2 linked regions of the Homo sapiens genome follow. The protein of the gene in region 1 binds, or shares a complex with, the protein of each later gene. Each region holds a gene or a part of one and is shown on either strand. Other genes may lie near its edges. A codon is read from its position in the direction of its gene.

Region 1 (7,328 bases):
TCCAAACTGAGAAATTTCCAGTAATTTTCCCCTTCATCTATATAACAATGATATCAAAAGTCTGCTCAAGAAACACATATTTAGGCCAGGTGCATGGCTCACGCCTGTCATCCCAGCACTTTGGGAGGCCGAGGCGGGCAGATCACAAGGTCAAGAGGTCGAGACCAGCCTGGCCAACATAGTAAAAACCCGTCTCTACTAAAAATACAAAAATTACCCAGGCATGGTGGCACATGCTTGTAGTCCCAGCTACTCGGGAGGCTGAGGAAGATTGCTTGAACCTGGGAGGCAGAGGTTGCAGTGAGCTGACATCGTGCCACTGCACTCCAGCCTGGGTGACAGAGTGATACTCCATCTCAAAAAAGAAAAAAAAAATGAAACACATATTTAATAAACATTTCTTGAGCCATATTATATACTAGGCGTTGGGAAGACAAATTGGATGTCAGGGCTAACACTTACATTCAAGTATGTATTCTTAAAGCATAGCTGTCATGGTTTTTAACCTCTTTTAGTAGGAACCTATAACCACTGTGCTAGAGTCTATTCCAATATGACATAGAGGTTACAAGCTAGACTGGCCTGGTTTAAACCCAGCCCCACCCTTAGCTGGTGACATTGGGGTCACTCTAGGTCATAGTTTCTCCATCTGTAGAATATATACGTAATAATAATATCTACCAATAACATCATGCTGTGTTGACTGATGATTAAATGGGTTAATACATGTAAAGCACTCAGGACAGTGCCTGGTAGGTAGTCAGTGCTACGCGTTTTATCCGTTATCACTCATATTATTATTAATCTCTGCTATGTTTGACCTCCAGCATTCTCTTACAGAGGCAATAAAGGATTAACTACACAGTAGTTATTCAGGGGTTACCAGGCACAGGAAGAGGAGAGATAAATGAACAGCCTTTCAGAGTTCAGGCAAGGCCCTCTGCTTGACACTTTCTGGCCCAGTGGGCAGGAGTAGAGAATTGGCTGCCAGGAAGCCCAAAGAGTGGGTTTCCTGTGGCTCTTCCGAGTTGAGGACTGAGAATTGGAGAGTCTGGGTGCCCTCCACTGGCCCTCATCACATTATCCATTTGACCTTATTAGAAAGTGGACGTTGGCCAGGTGCGGTGGCTCCCGCCTGTAATCTCAGCACTTTGGGAGGCCGAAGCAGGCAGATCACCTGAGGTCAGGAGTTTGAGACCAGCCTGACCAACATGGTGAAAGCCCGTCTCTACTAAAAATACAAAAATTAGCCAGGCATGGTGACGGGCACCTGTGATCTCAGCTACTCAGGAGGCTGAGGCAGGCGAATCGCTTGAACCAGGGAGGCCGAGGTTGCAGTGAGCTGAGATCGCGCCACTGCACTCCAGCCTGGGCGACAGAGCAAGACTCCGTATCAAAAAAAAAAAAAAGAAAAAGAAAGTGGACATGGTAAGCTTTTCTGGGATGGCCATATGGTCCTTCTACATCACTTCAGCGGGGCCACAGGGAATTGCAGAGGTGTGACCCACGACTGCAGCAGCTGTGGTGGAACAGCACCCCATAGCGTGAAGAAAGCCCCTGACCACAACATTCTCCAGTGAGTCCACACGCAGGGAGGAGCGCAACACCCACTCACATAAAGACACACACCTGGCCGGGCGCGGTGGCTCACACCTGTAATCCCAGCACTTGGGGAGGCCAAGGCAGGTGGATCACCCGAGGTCAGGGTGGCCAACATGGCAAAACTCTGCCTCTACTAAAAATACAAAATTAGCCCGGTGTGGTGGTGTGAGTCTGTAATCCCAGCTACGTGGGAGGCTAAGGCAGCAGAATCGCTTGAACCCGGCAGGCAGAGGTTGCAGCAAGCAGAGATGGCGCCATTGCACTCCAGCCTGGACGACAAGAGTGAGACTCTGTCTCAAAAAAAAAAAAAAAAGATAAAAATTCTCTTCCAGAGTACTTTGTAATTATAATGCAATCCCAATCAAAATACCAAAGAGGGAAGGGGGATGTGGAAAGAACTTGGCAAATCCTTTCTAACGTTCGTCTGGAAATTAGAGAAACCCAAATGCTCAACAATAGGAGATGATTAATTAGATCATCCTAATAATTATAGCTCACATTTATTAAGCACAGTAAATGTGTTTCACCTCAACAGTCACACTTGATCCTGAAAAAAAACGCTATGCGAAAATGACGAGTATAATTTCGGTTTTACAGGCAGGGTAATGGAGGTCTCTTTCGGTTCCGTAACCATCCAAAGGTCACCCATTTGATCAAAAGCAGAGCCACGAAGCATTGGCCCTGGAACTCTTGCTCTCAGCCACTGTGCTATTCATGAGATGAATGCATATGCTTCCTAAAAAGATTATGATCACATTTATTTGTACTGCCAAGGCAATAAGTCCGTCATACTTTATTGACAGGGGGAGAAAAATAGGTTACTGAACAGTTTGCACAGTATGGTCTTATTTTTGTTTTTTAGACAAAGGTAGGTAATATCTTACGAAAGATCCAGAAAGACATGGAACAGAAGGTGACTGGTGTTTCTCTGAGAGAGAGGCGGAGGTGACAGAAGAGTTGAGGTTTCCATATGTCAATACAGTATCAATGTTTAATTATTGGAAGGTTTTATTTTAATTATCAGATAAAGAACCCGAGGGGCCAAGAAATTCCACTGCTAGTGGTGGTAGAGCCGAGATTCAGATTGAGTCTGTCCTCCAAACCTGTGCTTCTTCTAACCTCTCTCTCGGGATTTTCCTCTTCTGTTGCCGTGCTGCACTTGCCCTCTGGGATTGAACCCACAATTGTAGGCAACCACTGCCCTTGTATTACTGATAAACTTGTGCAAACGAATGCCATTGCTCCTCTATCTTATCACTTAAAACTTCTTTCTGGCCGGGCACGGTGGCTCACGCCTGTAATCCCAGCACTTTTGGGAGGCCGAGGCAGGCAGATCACCTGAAGTCAGGAGTTCGAGACCAGCCTGGTCAACATGGTGAAACCCCGTCTCTACTAAAAATACAAAAAAAGTTAGCTGGGCGTGGTGGCATGTGCCTGTAATCCCAGCTACTCGGGAGGCTGAAACAGGAGAATTGCTCGAACCCAGGAGGCAGAGATTGCAGTGAGCTGAGATCACACCATTGCACTCCAGCCTGGGTGACAGGGTAAGACTTCATCTCAAAAAAACAAAAAACAAAAAAACCATTTTTGTCCTAGACACCTAAATAACATCCTATGGCTGATGGTTGTTTTTGCCAATTTTGCAAAGCGTGGGGTGAATTAAAGTATCCTGCACGTGTGCTTTCTGCAGTGCGACCAGGGTGGCCTCGTCCCTCCCGCCTCCTTATTCTGCATGATCAGAGTAGAGCCCTGTTTAGGAAAAGCACTGAACTGGGCATTCAGAGCCCTGGGCTCCAGTCCCGGCACAGCCACTGGCTCTTCACTTCTCCCCTCCAGACCCACTTTACTTCCCTGTACAATTCAGGATGGTGAAAGCTCTCAAGTCCTTTTTTTTTTTTTTTTTTTTTTGAGATGGAGTCTTGCTCTGTCGCCCAGGCTGGAGTGCAGTGGTGCAGTGGTGCAGTCTCGGCTCACTGCAATCTCTGCCTCCTGGGTTCAAGCAATTCTCTGCCTCAGCCTCCGGAGTAGCTGGGATTACAGGTGTCCACCACCACACCCGGCTAGTTTTTTGTATTTCCTGTAGAGACAGGACCTCACCATGTTGGCCAGGCTGGTTTTGAACTCCTGACCTCAAGTGATCCACCTGCCTCGGCCTCCCAAAGTGCTGGGATTACAGGCATGAACCACCGTGCCCGGCCTTGTCTATCCTATTTTTAAAATGAACATCTCTAGAGCCATCCCCGGCGGTTGCAGGGACAGTCTGATAAGTGAACTAAGTTTCTATGCATAAATGCTTGCCTCTGGGCCTCCTCGCTGCTGACCGGTGTGGTTTTGGCCGCAGGTGGGTGGAGCCGCTGACTGCCGAGGGCAGAGCCTCGCTTCGGTGCCCAGCAGCCTCCCGCCCCACGCCCGGATGCTCACCCTGGATGCCAACCCTCTCAAGACCCTGTGGAATCACTCCCTCCAGCCTTACCCTCTCCTGGAGAGCCTCAGCCTGCACAGCTGCCACCTGGAGCGCATCAGCCGCGGCGCCTTCCAGGAGCAAGGTCACCTGCGCAGCCTGGTCCTGGGGGACAACTGCCTCTCAGAGAACTACGAAGAGACGGCAGCCGCCCTCCACGCCCTGCCGGGCCTGCGGAGGCTGGACTTGTCAGGAAACGCCCTGACGGAGGACATGGCAGCCCTCATGCTCCAGAACCTCTCCTCGCTGCGGTCCGTGTCCCTGGCGGGGAACACCATCATGCGGCTGGACGACTCCGTCTTCGAGGGCCTGGAGCGTCTCCGGGAGCTGGATCTGCAGAGGAACTACATCTTCGAGATCGAGGGCGGCGCTTTCGACGGCCTGGCTGAGCTGAGGCACCTCAACCTGGCCTTCAACAACCTCCCCTGCATCGTGGACTTCGGGCTCACGCGGCTGCGGGTCCTCAACGTCAGCTACAACGTCCTGGAGTGGTTCCTCGCGACCGGGGGAGAGGCTGCCTTCGAGCTGGAGACGCTGGACCTGTCTCACAACCAGCTGCTGTTCTTCCCGCTGCTGCCCCAGTACAGCAAGTTGCGGACCCTCCTGCTGCGCGACAACAACATGGGCTTCTACCGGGACCTGTACAACACCTCGTCGCCGAGGGAGATGGTGGCCCAGTTCCTCCTCGTGGACGGCAACGTGACCAACATCACCACCGTCAGCCTCTGGGAAGAATTCTCCTCCAGCGACCTCGCAGATCTCCGCTTCCTGGACATGAGCCAGAACCAGTTCCAGTACCTGCCAGACGGCTTCCTGAGGAAAATGCCTTCCCTCTCCCACCTGAACCTCCACCAGAATTGCCTGATGACGCTTCACATTCGGGAGCACGAGCCCCCCGGAGCGCTCACCGAGCTGGACCTGAGCCACAACCAGCTGTCGGAGCTGCACCTGGCTCCGGGGCTGGCCAGCTGCCTGGGCAGCCTGCGCTTGTTCAACCTGAGCTCCAACCAGCTCCTGGGCGTCCCCCCTGGCCTCTTCGCCAATGCTAGGAACATCACTACACTTGACATGAGCCACAATCAGATCTCACTTTGTCCCCTGCCAGCTGCCTCGGACCGGGTGGGCCCCCCTAGCTGTGTGGATTTCAGGAATATGGCATCTTTAAGGAGCCTGTCTCTGGAGGGCTGTGGCCTGGGGGCATTGCCAGACTGCCCATTCCAAGGGACCTCCCTGACCTACTTAGACCTCTCAAGCAACTGGGGGGTTCTGAATGGGAGCCTCGCCCCACTCCAGGATGTTGCCCCCATGTTACAGGTCCTGTCTCTCAGGAACATGGGCCTCCACTCCAGCTTTATGGCGTTGGACTTCTCTGGGTTTGGGAATCTCAGGGACTTAGATCTGTCGGGGAATTGCTTGACCACCTTCCCAAGGTTTGGGGGCAGCCTGGCCCTGGAGACCCTGGATCTCCGTAGAAACTCGCTCACAGCCCTTCCCCAGAAGGCTGTGTCTGAGCAGCTCTCGAGAGGTCTGCGGACCATCTACCTCAGTCAGAATCCATATGACTGCTGTGGGGTGGATGGCTGGGGGGCCCTGCAGCATGGGCAGACGGTGGCCGACTGGGCCATGGTCACCTGCAACCTCTCCTCCAAGATCATCCGCGTGACGGAGCTGCCCGGAGGTGTGCCTCGGGACTGCAAGTGGGAGCGGCTGGACCTGGGCCTGCTCTACCTCGTGCTCATCCTCCCCAGCTGCCTCACCCTGCTGGTGGCCTGCACTGTCATCGTCCTCACTTTTAAGAAGCCTCTGCTTCAGGTCATCAAGAGCCGCTGCCACTGGTCCTCCGTTTACTGACCTGGCTGTGTGCCAAGACTCGAAATTCGGTCCGCACACAACAGGACACTTTCTCTGCCAGCTTTCAAGATGTGATGCAGAGGCCAAGTCTGACGAATTGAAGTTTCAATTAAAATTTAATATGTTTCCATTCCTCATCGCCCACCCCACCCCCGCCCCCACCACCGCCCAAGTTCTTTTTCCATCATTATAATTCATCCTCATTATCTTGGTAAAATATTTATTAAGTGACTTTTTCAGAAATAAAAGGCAACGTGTCTCATAAATATTTTTTAAATTAAATGCAGCTTGTGTTTTTTTTTATTGTTCCTTGGTTTCCCTTGGATTATTTTGTAGTGTCCTCCCCTTGGTGACATCCATGGAGCCGAGGGTAGCAATTCAATGCAACCTACTGGAAAAAGAACTCCAAGAGCAGGTGCTAGAGATGGTGAGTCAGTGCCCTGGGGACTCAACAGGGACAAGGATTTCATAGCAGGACGACGACACAAGGATTTCATAGCAGGACGACGACAACAAAGCATTTCAAAGCACAGCTGGAGGGTCTGACATAAGATCATAAGATGAGGCCTCTCACCTGCTGCGTGACTGGCCACCGCCGTCAGAACGGTCCTGTGATCCTAGCACTTTGGGAGGCTGAGGCGGGTCACCTGAGGTCAGGAGTTCGAGACCAGCTTGGCGAACATGGTGAAACCCCGTCTCTACTAAAAATACAGAAATTAGCCGGGTGTGGTGGCGGGCGCCTGTAATCCCAGCTACTTGGGAGGCTGAGACAGGAGAATTGCTTGAACCCAGGAGGCGGAGGTTGCAGTGAACCGAGATCACACCACTGCACCCCAGCCTGGGCGATGGAGCAAGACCCCGTCTCAAAAAATAAACAAATAAATAAAATAATGGACCTCTAGCTGGGCCCTCTCCAGGTGCCCTGGCTTCATACCCGGAGTCTCTGGCAGACAGACATGACTCTTCCATGGAGAAACCAAGAGAATAATAACTGGCCCCGAGTTTATCCAGTCAGTAAGCCGACTGCCAGAGACAGTCCTCGTTCTGAAGGGAAGTAAAGAGGAATGCAGAAAGGAATGAATTCTGCTCACTTGTGAACCCTCCTAACTCTTCACAAAAAATTGCTTACAACTTCATAGCAGATGTTCAGTATCTGTATTCACTAGATTCTTAGCTTCCCTTCTCCCTCTGTTCAATGACTAACGAACAATGTCTGTGCTCCTCTCTGAGAGAAAAGATAACAAGGACACAGCCCCCGTCCTCTGGTAGTTTAGAATTTACACTGTCCTCAAAGTTTTTAATCCCTGCTTACTAAATCATAAAGGAATTAAACGCAATGGGGGAGGGATGGGGAGGGAGAGAGGCTAGAAATCCCACAAACTGATAGCTATTACCATGCAGACTAACTGTCAGC
Region 2 (8,652 bases), on another chromosome or scaffold:
GAGATGGGGTTTTGCCATGTTGGTCAGGCTGGTCTTGAACTCCTGGACTCAAGGGATCTACCTGCCTTGGCCTCCCAAAGTGCTGAGATTACAGGTGTGAGCCACTGTATCCTACCACTCAGTGCATTTTAGCTATCATTATCACCCCTCAGTAGGATCGAAATTGTTATGTGTGTTTCAGGATGCGCTCCTGGAGGGTACCCTTGGCCCCATCTTAATCCTTGGACTAGGCTTGAAAATATGGGGTGAGAATCGTAATAAAATGATATTGAAGACTTATCCCGTGCTCACTATGCTCATTACCCATTCATGGATTAATGGGTTAATGGATTAGTGGGTTATCATGGGAGAGGAAGTGGTGGCTTTATAAAATGAGAGAGAGAGACGTGAGTGGCATGTTAGCACACTAGCCTTGGGACTCTCTGAAGAGTTCCAGCAAGAAGGCTCTTACTAGATGGGGCTCCTCCACCTTGGTCAGTCTCCTATAACTGTGAGATAGAAATTCCTTTTCTTTATAAATTATCCAGTTTTGGATATTATGTTAAGAGTAACAGAAAACAAATGAAGACAATGAGGAATGCATTATTACTCAGCTCATTTTATAGATGGGGAGACCAAGGCAGAGAAAGCTAACTTGCCCAAGGTTGCAGAGGCAGGAAGAGGTAGTGCCAGGATTTGAACCCAGATACTTGGTTCCAGAGTCCATGCTTCGTAACCCCTACCAGTAGATGCCACAGAGAAACAGTCCTATAGCCACAGCGGCATCCCCTTCCCGATGGCTGCCTCCCACCCCTCTATGTCCCGGCTCTCACTGCAGGGGCGGCATGGAAGCTCCTGTCAGGCGTGCGGGAGGGCCAAACGCAAGTGGACACCCCGCAGATAGGGGACATGGCTTACTGGTCCCACCCCATCGACCTGCACTTCGCCACCAAAGGTCTTCAAGGTGGGTATCACACCTGGACCCGGGTCCAGGCTGAGGGGAGGGGGCCAGTAGCCTCTGAGGTCCCTGGGGCTGGGAACACCAAGACCTGTCCCTGCTCCCCATACCACGTAGGTCCCTTTTGCAGCCAAGTCTGGCCCTGGAGAGGCTGAGCTAAGGCCTTCCCAGGCCTGCTCAATAGGCGATCCCAAGTTTGTATGATTAGGGCAGAGGCCAGGGTGGAGCAGGAGGTGGGAAGGTGGGGGGTCAGGGTGGGAGGGGAGGTGGCATTCAAGTAAAGAGACAAAACGAGAGTCTCCAATAAAGAGGAAGCCGGGAGGCAGGGTCTGAGAGAGGCAAGGGCTGTTTCTCCAGGAAGGGCTCCTCGGCTTGAAAGTAGAGCTGCTGCTCAAAGGGGAAATCAGTACTGGGGGAGGAGCGGCATCAGAAAGCCTTTCTAGTAGAAAATGTGGGTTCCTGGAGATGAGTTGATTCTGAGAAATTGCCTAGGTAAATGTGCCATATATTTCACCAATATAAAGAACGTCTACCTGGTACCTGCCCTGTGTCCAGCCTGTGTTGGGTGATGCCAGGGAGACATTGAGGATCAAGGCAGTGTCCCTTAGCCTTGTCCTCACAGGGTTCACCGTCCTATGGGGGGACACACCTCTCTCCAGACAGTGGCACCTCAGAGTGGGCAGGACTAAGATAGGTGATTTGGAGAGGCTGTGGGAGCCCAGAGGAAGTGGCTGACTCTGTCAGGGAGGTCAGAGAGGGCTTCCTGGAGGAGGGGGCTTCTGAACTTTGCTGTGAAGGGCCAGCGGAGCTAATAAGGCAGAGGGATAGAAGAAGGTTCTAGGCAGAGGGAGCTACGTGGAAGACTCAAAGGGGAAAGTGAGCCAAGGGCATCTAGTGGATTGAGGGAGAGCGGGACGGCAGAGGGGAAAGGCAGAAGGGGACAGGCCATGCAGGGCCTTGAGTGCCAGGCTGAGGAGCTGAGGCCATCTCCTGAAGGCACTTGGGAGCCAGAGCAGGTAATGGACAAGTGAGATTTCACCTTTTTTTTTTTGGAGACAGAGTTTCACTCTGTTGCCCAGGCTGGAGTGTAGTGGCAAGATCTCAGCTCACTGCAACCTCTGCCTCCCAGGTTCAAGCAATTCTCCTGCCTCAGCCTCACGAGTAGCTGGGACTACAGCCACGTGCCACCACATCTGGCTAATTTTTGCCTTTTTTTTTTTTAATAGAGATGGCGTTTCACCAAGGTGGTCAGGCTGGTCTCGAACTCCTGACCTCAGGTGATCCACCTGCCTCGGCCTCCCAAAGTGCTGGGATTACAGGCATGAGCCACCGCGCCTGGCTGAGATTTCACTTTTAAATAATCTTTCTGTCTTTTAAGCTGGAGCTGGGGAAAAAAAAAATCTTTCCGGTGCTGTGTGGGTGAGGTGGGCAGCTCTAACCTTTCAGCTCTTGGGGCCTCCAGTCCCCCAGTGGTGGCACCAGCCTTGCTTTCTCTTTTCTCAAGCCCCCATTTTGTCCATCAGGAAATCTTAAACTGCCTCTACTTTTGAAATACATCCTAAATCCCACTTCTTACCCTTTTCTCGCCCAGCACCTTGATCTGTCCAAGTTCTTCTCTCACATGGACTATGACAAGAATCTTGTCTCTGGAGTCCCCTTCCCCAACCCCCCTGGTCTGCACCCCACATGCAGCTGGGACCCTGTGAACACCTAAGTCAGGTCCCATCTCTGCTCTGCTCAGAACCCTCCAATGGTCCCCATCTCACTCAGGGTGAAAGCCATAGTCTTAGCATGCATCACAAGGCTCTCCACAACCAGGCTGGCACCTCCTTCCCGTCTCCCCACCTCATTCTGCTCTAGCCATGCTGTCCCCACCAGGCACACTCCGTCTGGGCTCCAGCCATACTGTCCCCACCAGACAGTCCCCCCCCAGGGCCTTGGCACTTGCTGTTCCCTCTGGCTAGGAGCACTCTTCCTCTAGATGGCCACATGGCCTACTCCCTTCCTTCCTTTTAGCATTTGCTCAAATGTCACCTTCTTAATGAAGCTTCCTTGATCCCCTTCTTGCTAAAGCGGTATCCCCACCCTCACCCTACCCAGCTCTGTTTTCCCTCACAGCAATTACCACCATCTGATCTACCCTATAATTTGCTTATTTACTACATTCGTTGTCTAGGATATCAGCTTCACGGGGGCAGGAATTTTTGTCTGCCATCCATGTTCATGTCTGCCGTGTCCCCAGCTAGCTAGAACAGAGTCTAGCACAGGAGAAGGGATCAGCATGAGATGAGATGGGGCTGGATCTCCAAGGGCTTTGACTACCAGACTGAGGAGCTGAACTGTGTTCTGAGGACATGGGCAAAGCTATGGAAGGAGAGAAAGATGCTTCCAGATGCCAGGTGGAAGGTGGATTAGAGAGGGGCAAGAAAGAAGGCCCTGGGCCCAAAGAGAGCAGGGCAGGGACATGAGGGAAGGCAGGAGGTGTCCCTGACAAGGCCCATGATGGTTACCTGGGGACTGGAGGAGCAATGGGCTGCCCTGACATGGGGTCATGGAGGAGGATAACACAGAGAGGAAATTCAGCAGAGGTCTGATTAGAAGGGCCTTGAATGTTGAAGAGGTTGGACTTTATACTGAGGGCACTGGGGAGCTATGGAAGGATCCTTAGCAGGGGAGTAACATGGATTTGGAAAGATCACTTTGGCTGCTGTGTGGGGATAGATAAGACGGTGGGAGCCTAGAAAGGAGGCTGGGTTGGAAACTCTGGGACAGAAACCCAGAGAGGAAAAGACTGGGCCTGGGGTCTCCAGTGAGTATCAGGGAGTGGGGAATCAGCAGGAGTCTGGTCCCCACCCATCCCTCCTTTCCCCTCTCTCTCCTTTCCTGCAGGCTGGCCCCGGCTCCATTTCCAGGTGTGGTCCCAGGACAGCTTTGGCCGCTGCCAGCTTGCAGGCTATGGATTTTGCCATGTGCCCAGTAGCCCGGGCACCCACCAGCTGGCCTGCCCCACGTGGCGGCCCCTGGGCAGTTGGCGAGAACAGTTGGCACGGGCTTTCGTGGGTGGTGGGCCGCAGCTGCTGCATGGGGACACCATCTACAGTGGGGCCGACCGCTATCGCCTGCACACAGCTGCTGGTGGCACCGTGCACCTGGAGATCGGCCTGCTGCTCCGCAACTTCGACCGCTACGGCGTGGAGTGCTGAGGGACTCTGCCTCCAACGTCACCACCATCCACACCCCGGACACCCAGTGATGGGGGAGGATGGCACAGTGGTCAAGAGCACAGACTCTAGAGACTGTCAGAGCTGACCCCAGCTAAGGCATGGCACCGCTTCTGTCCTTTCTAGGACCTCGGGGTCCCTCTGGGCCCAGTTTCCCTATCTGTAAATTGGGGACAGTAAATGTATGGGGTCGCAGGGTGTTGAGTGACAGGAGGCTGCTTAGCCACATGGGAGGTGCTCAGTAAAGGAGAGCAATTCTTACAGGTGTCTGCCTCCTGACCCTTCCATCCTTCAGGTGTCCTGTTGCCCCCTCCTCCCACTGACACCCTCCGGAGGCCCCCATGTTGACAGACCCTCTTCTCCTACCTTGTTTCCCAGCCTGACTCTCCTTCCGTTCTGGGTCCCCCTCCTCTGGTCGGCTCCCCTGTGTCTCATCCCCCGGATTAAGCCTTCTCCGCCTGGTCCTCTTTCTCTGGTGACCCACACCGCCCGCAAAGCCACAGCGCATCTGGATCACCCGCTTTGGTGGCGCTTGGCCGCCAGGAGGCAGCACCCTGTTTGCGGGGCGGAGCCGGGGTGCCCGCCCCCTTTCCCCCAGGGCTGAAGGGACCCCCCTCGGAGCCCGCCCACGCGAGATGAGGACGGTGGCCCAGCCCCCCCATGCCCTCCCCCTGGGGGCCGCCCCCGCTCCCGCCCCGTGCGCTTCCTGGGTGGGGCCGGGGGCGGCTTCAAAACCCCCTGCCGACCCAGCCGGTCCCCGCCGCCGCCGCCCTTCGCGCCCTGGGCCATCTCCCTCCCACCTCCCTCCGCGGAGCAGCCAGACAGCGAGGGCCCCGGCCGGGGGCAGGGGGGACGCCCCGTCCGGGGCACCCCCCCGGCTCTGAGCCGCCCGCGGGGCCGGCCTCGGCCCGGAGCGGAGGAAGGAGTCGCCGAGGAGCAGCCTGAGGCCCCAGAGTCTGAGACGAGCCGCCGCCGCCCCCGCCACTGCGGGGAGGAGGGGGAGGAGGAGCGGGAGGAGGGACGAGCTGGTCGGGAGAAGAGGAAAAAAACTTTTGAGACTTTTCCGTTGCCGCTGGGAGCCGGAGGCGCGGGGACCTCTTGGCGCGACGCTGCCCCGCGAGGAGGCAGGACTTGGGGACCCCAGACCGCCTCCCTTTGCCGCCGGGGACGCTTGCTCCCTCCCTGCCCCCTACACGGCGTCCCTCAGGCGCCCCCATTCCGGACCAGCCCTCGGGAGTCGCCGACCCGGCCTCCCGCAAAGACTTTTCCCCAGACCTCGGGCGCACCCCCTGCACGCCGCCTTCATCCCCGGCCTGTCTCCTGAGCCCCCGCGCATCCTAGACCCTTTCTCCTCCAGGAGACGGATCTCTCTCCGACCTGCCACAGATCCCCTATTCAAGACCACCCACCTTCTGGTACCAGATCGCGCCCATCTAGGTTATTTCCGTGGGATACTGAGACACCCCCGGTCCAAGCCTCCCCTCCACCACTGCGCCCTTCTCCCTGAGGACCTCAGCTTTCCCTCGAGGCCCTCCTACCTTTTGCCGGGAGACCCCCAGCCCCTGCAGGGGCGGGGCCTCCCCACCACACCAGCCCTGTTCGCGCTCTCGGCAGTGCCGGGGGGCGCCGCCTCCCCCATGCCGCCCTCCGGGCTGCGGCTGCTGCCGCTGCTGCTACCGCTGCTGTGGCTACTGGTGCTGACGCCTGGCCGGCCGGCCGCGGGACTATCCACCTGCAAGACTATCGACATGGAGCTGGTGAAGCGGAAGCGCATCGAGGCCATCCGCGGCCAGATCCTGTCCAAGCTGCGGCTCGCCAGCCCCCCGAGCCAGGGGGAGGTGCCGCCCGGCCCGCTGCCCGAGGCCGTGCTCGCCCTGTACAACAGCACCCGCGACCGGGTGGCCGGGGAGAGTGCAGAACCGGAGCCCGAGCCTGAGGCCGACTACTACGCCAAGGAGGTCACCCGCGTGCTAATGGTGGAAACCCACAACGGTGAGCTCGGAGGGGCAGGGGAGCCGGGAGGGGGGCCCCCAGGGGGCGCCGGAGTGCCGGGGCCACGGGTAGGAAGTGACTGGCAGAAGAAACTGGCTGGAGGAAGAGGACACCCCGGGGCAAAGGGAACGTGTGATGGTGGGAGGGGGGTGTCCGAAAGAGGATGGCACTGAGCCCCCTACCACCCAGGTGTCTGGTCTTGGAGAGGAGGAGATAGCGAAGTGGACCGCTTCTAGAGTGCGACAGAAACATGCGGGGTCGTGGGGGCAGTCCCCTAGAGGGAGACAAGCAATAGGGGGAGGGTAGAAGGCTCCCTCTTCCAGGACGCGTTGAATGGGGGGGGGGGTCGTGGGGTGCCAGGTGCAGAGAAGGGAGCCTGGTGTGGGAGAAGCGAAGACCCCAGCATTTGGGAAAGGAGAGGCGCTGGAGAAAGTTGACCCAGAGCTTGGGGGTCCTGAGGTGGAAAGATTCAAGAAGGACAGAAAAGCTAGATGAAGGCAACCCCAGAGGGTGCCAGGAAAGTGAGAGCGGACCCACTTCCAGAGGCTGCCAGGAACACGCGGGATGCGGGGGTGGGGGAGAGTCGTAGAAAGAGAAACAGAGGTGCGTGTGATAAATGTGGGGAGAAAGGGACGGGAGGTTATTGGAAGGAGGAGGCAAGCGGGAGAGGAGCGGAGACTCGGGAGGGCGCCCGGGATGCAGAGGTGTCCTCGGTGTTTCACACAGGGACGTGAGGGACAGAGTGGGGAGCCCAGCGGAGGAATCGAGCTTCCAGAAGACCTAGAGTCCTGGGTCATGGGAAGGGCTTTACCGAGAGGGGAGACAGGCGTGGGAAAGGTGGTGTGAGCGGGGAGGAGGAGAGATACCCAGCGCCATCCACGCTGCATTCCCCGCAGGATGCAGGGGAATGGGCTGAGCGGAGTCCAGCCGCAGGGGAAGTGCTGGGTGGGGGGTGACTCTACAAGACCGAGGTGAGAAAACCAAGCTGGGAGGAGTGAGAAAGCCCCACGTGGGTGCCACGCGCGGGGGGAGGAGCCTGCGCTTCCACCAAGGGGCAGGAGGACCCCGCTGCGCTAAACGCTGGCAGTCTGGACCCCAAAGTCCCAGTTCCTCTCAGGGTGGCTGGGGAAACCCCAGCGTCCGGCGGCCTCATCCCCCTCCCTTCCCTTTCCTTCCCATGCCCCCGGCGGAGGCGGGGATCGCTCGCGGAGCCCGGGGCGAGACGGGGCAGGTCTGGTCCCCGCCCTCCTGGCTGCGGCGCCTCCCGCCCTCCTCACCCCAGCTACGGGCGGGGCTCCCACTCAGCCGGCCCCGTCGGCATCCATGCGAGGACCCAGGCGTCCCGCGTGGTTCAGAGCCTTGGGGAAGATCCCTCAGGTTTCACTGACTCTTGGGCGGTGTGGGCTTGCGGGTTCCCTGCCCATTTCTGCGCCAGTTTACAGCTCCAGCCCAATGACGCGCACTCCGCACCCAAGTCTCAGCCTTACCTTATCTTCCGTGGCTTCACCTTCGTTGTAGAGGTTCCTTTAACACTGACACCTCCAATCCTCTTCTCCCCAACAAATGCACATGTGTCTCGTCTCGCACGTGTCTCCCCATCTGCCTCTTTCTTTTCGTCTCCGTTAGTCTTTCTGTCCACGCATGGGTCTCCTGGTTTTTGTCTCTCCGACTATTTTCTCTCCCTTTCTATTTTTCTCCTCCACGGTCCTGTTGCCTCGTCTCCGTCTCTGACATCTCCCCGCCTCTCCCTCTCTGCATCACCCTCCAACCCTTCCTCTCCCTCCTCTCTGTCTTCCTCCCTATCTGTCTTCCCCAGCCAAGGCTCTGCCTTTCCTTTGGGGTTTGCTGAGTAACCTCCGGGCCAAGAATAGGGCTTACTGGGGCTGGGTGGGGAGGGAGACTGGGGAGGAGGAGGAGGATCGAAGGGGGCCGTAGGGGAGGGGTTTCCTCTGCCTTTCTCACCAGTCTCTTTTCACACCCCCACTATGGGAGGCTGGAAGCAGTTGCCCCAGTTGATCCAGCAGTTCATGGCCTGTTCCCTCATCCCCATCCCCAAACTTTTCCTAAACTAGAAAATACCTTGGCTGGGCGCGGTGGCTCACGCCTGTAATCCCAGCACTTTGGGAGGCCAAGGTGGGTGGACCACCTGAGGTCAGGAGTTGGAGACCAGCCTGGCCAACATGGTGAAACCCGGTCTCTACTAAAAATACAAAAATTAGCTGGGCGGGGTGGCGGGCGGCGCCTGTAATCCCAGCTACTTGGGAGGCTGAGGCAGGAGAATCGCTTGAACCTGGGAGGCAGAGGTTGCTATGAGCCAAGATCGCGCCACTGCACTCCAGCCTGGGCGACAGAAACTCCATCTCAAAAAAAAAAAAAAAAAAAGAAAAGAAAACACCTTAATTCCTTTTCTCCCCACTACAGCCATTCCTACCCAGAATGAACTTCACTTTCCCTAACCAGCTGGGGAAGGGAGTTAAGGGTGGAAAACTAATAATAAAAATA

What was found.
Region 2: the proteins of NRROS (region 1) and TGFB1 are in contact, whole or in part, in a cryo-EM structure (PDB 7Y1R), measured with the Homo sapiens proteins. Residues at the interface, in NP_940967.1 of Homo sapiens: Phe194 (codon at 4,415), Glu195 (codon at 4,418), Ile196 (codon at 4,421), Glu197 (codon at 4,424), Gly198 (codon at 4,427), Gly199 (codon at 4,430), Phe201 (codon at 4,436), Leu210 (codon at 4,463), Leu212 (codon at 4,469), Pro218 (codon at 4,487), Cys219 (codon at 4,490), Ile220 (codon at 4,493), Val221 (codon at 4,496), Asp222 (codon at 4,499), Phe223 (codon at 4,502), Gly224 (codon at 4,505), Leu225 (codon at 4,508); in NP_000651.3 of Homo sapiens: Leu30 (codon at 5,883), Ser31 (codon at 5,886), Thr32 (codon at 5,889), Cys33 (codon at 5,892), Thr35 (codon at 5,898).

The regions. Positions count from the first base shown.
Region 1 is NC_000003.12:196,655,809-196,663,136, forward strand, and holds the end of NRROS (transforming growth factor beta activator LRRC33 precursor), read left to right. Parts: intron 1-3,943; coding exon 3,944-5,914; 3' UTR 5,915-6,196; downstream 6,197-7,328. UniProt on the Homo sapiens protein: Key regulator of transforming growth factor beta-1 (TGFB1) specifically required for microglia function in the nervous system.
Region 2 is NC_000019.10:41,350,188-41,358,839, reverse strand, and holds the start of TGFB1 (transforming growth factor beta-1 proprotein preproprotein), read left to right. Parts: upstream 1-4,917; 5' UTR 4,918-5,795; coding exon 5,796-6,150; intron 6,151-8,652. Other genes in the region: B9D2 (B9 domain-containing protein 2), read left to right, coding at 818-943, 3,827-4,140. UniProt on the Homo sapiens protein: Transforming growth factor beta-1 proprotein: Precursor of the Latency-associated peptide (LAP) and Transforming growth factor beta-1 (TGF-beta-1) chains, which constitute the regulatory and active subunit of TGF-beta-1, respectively.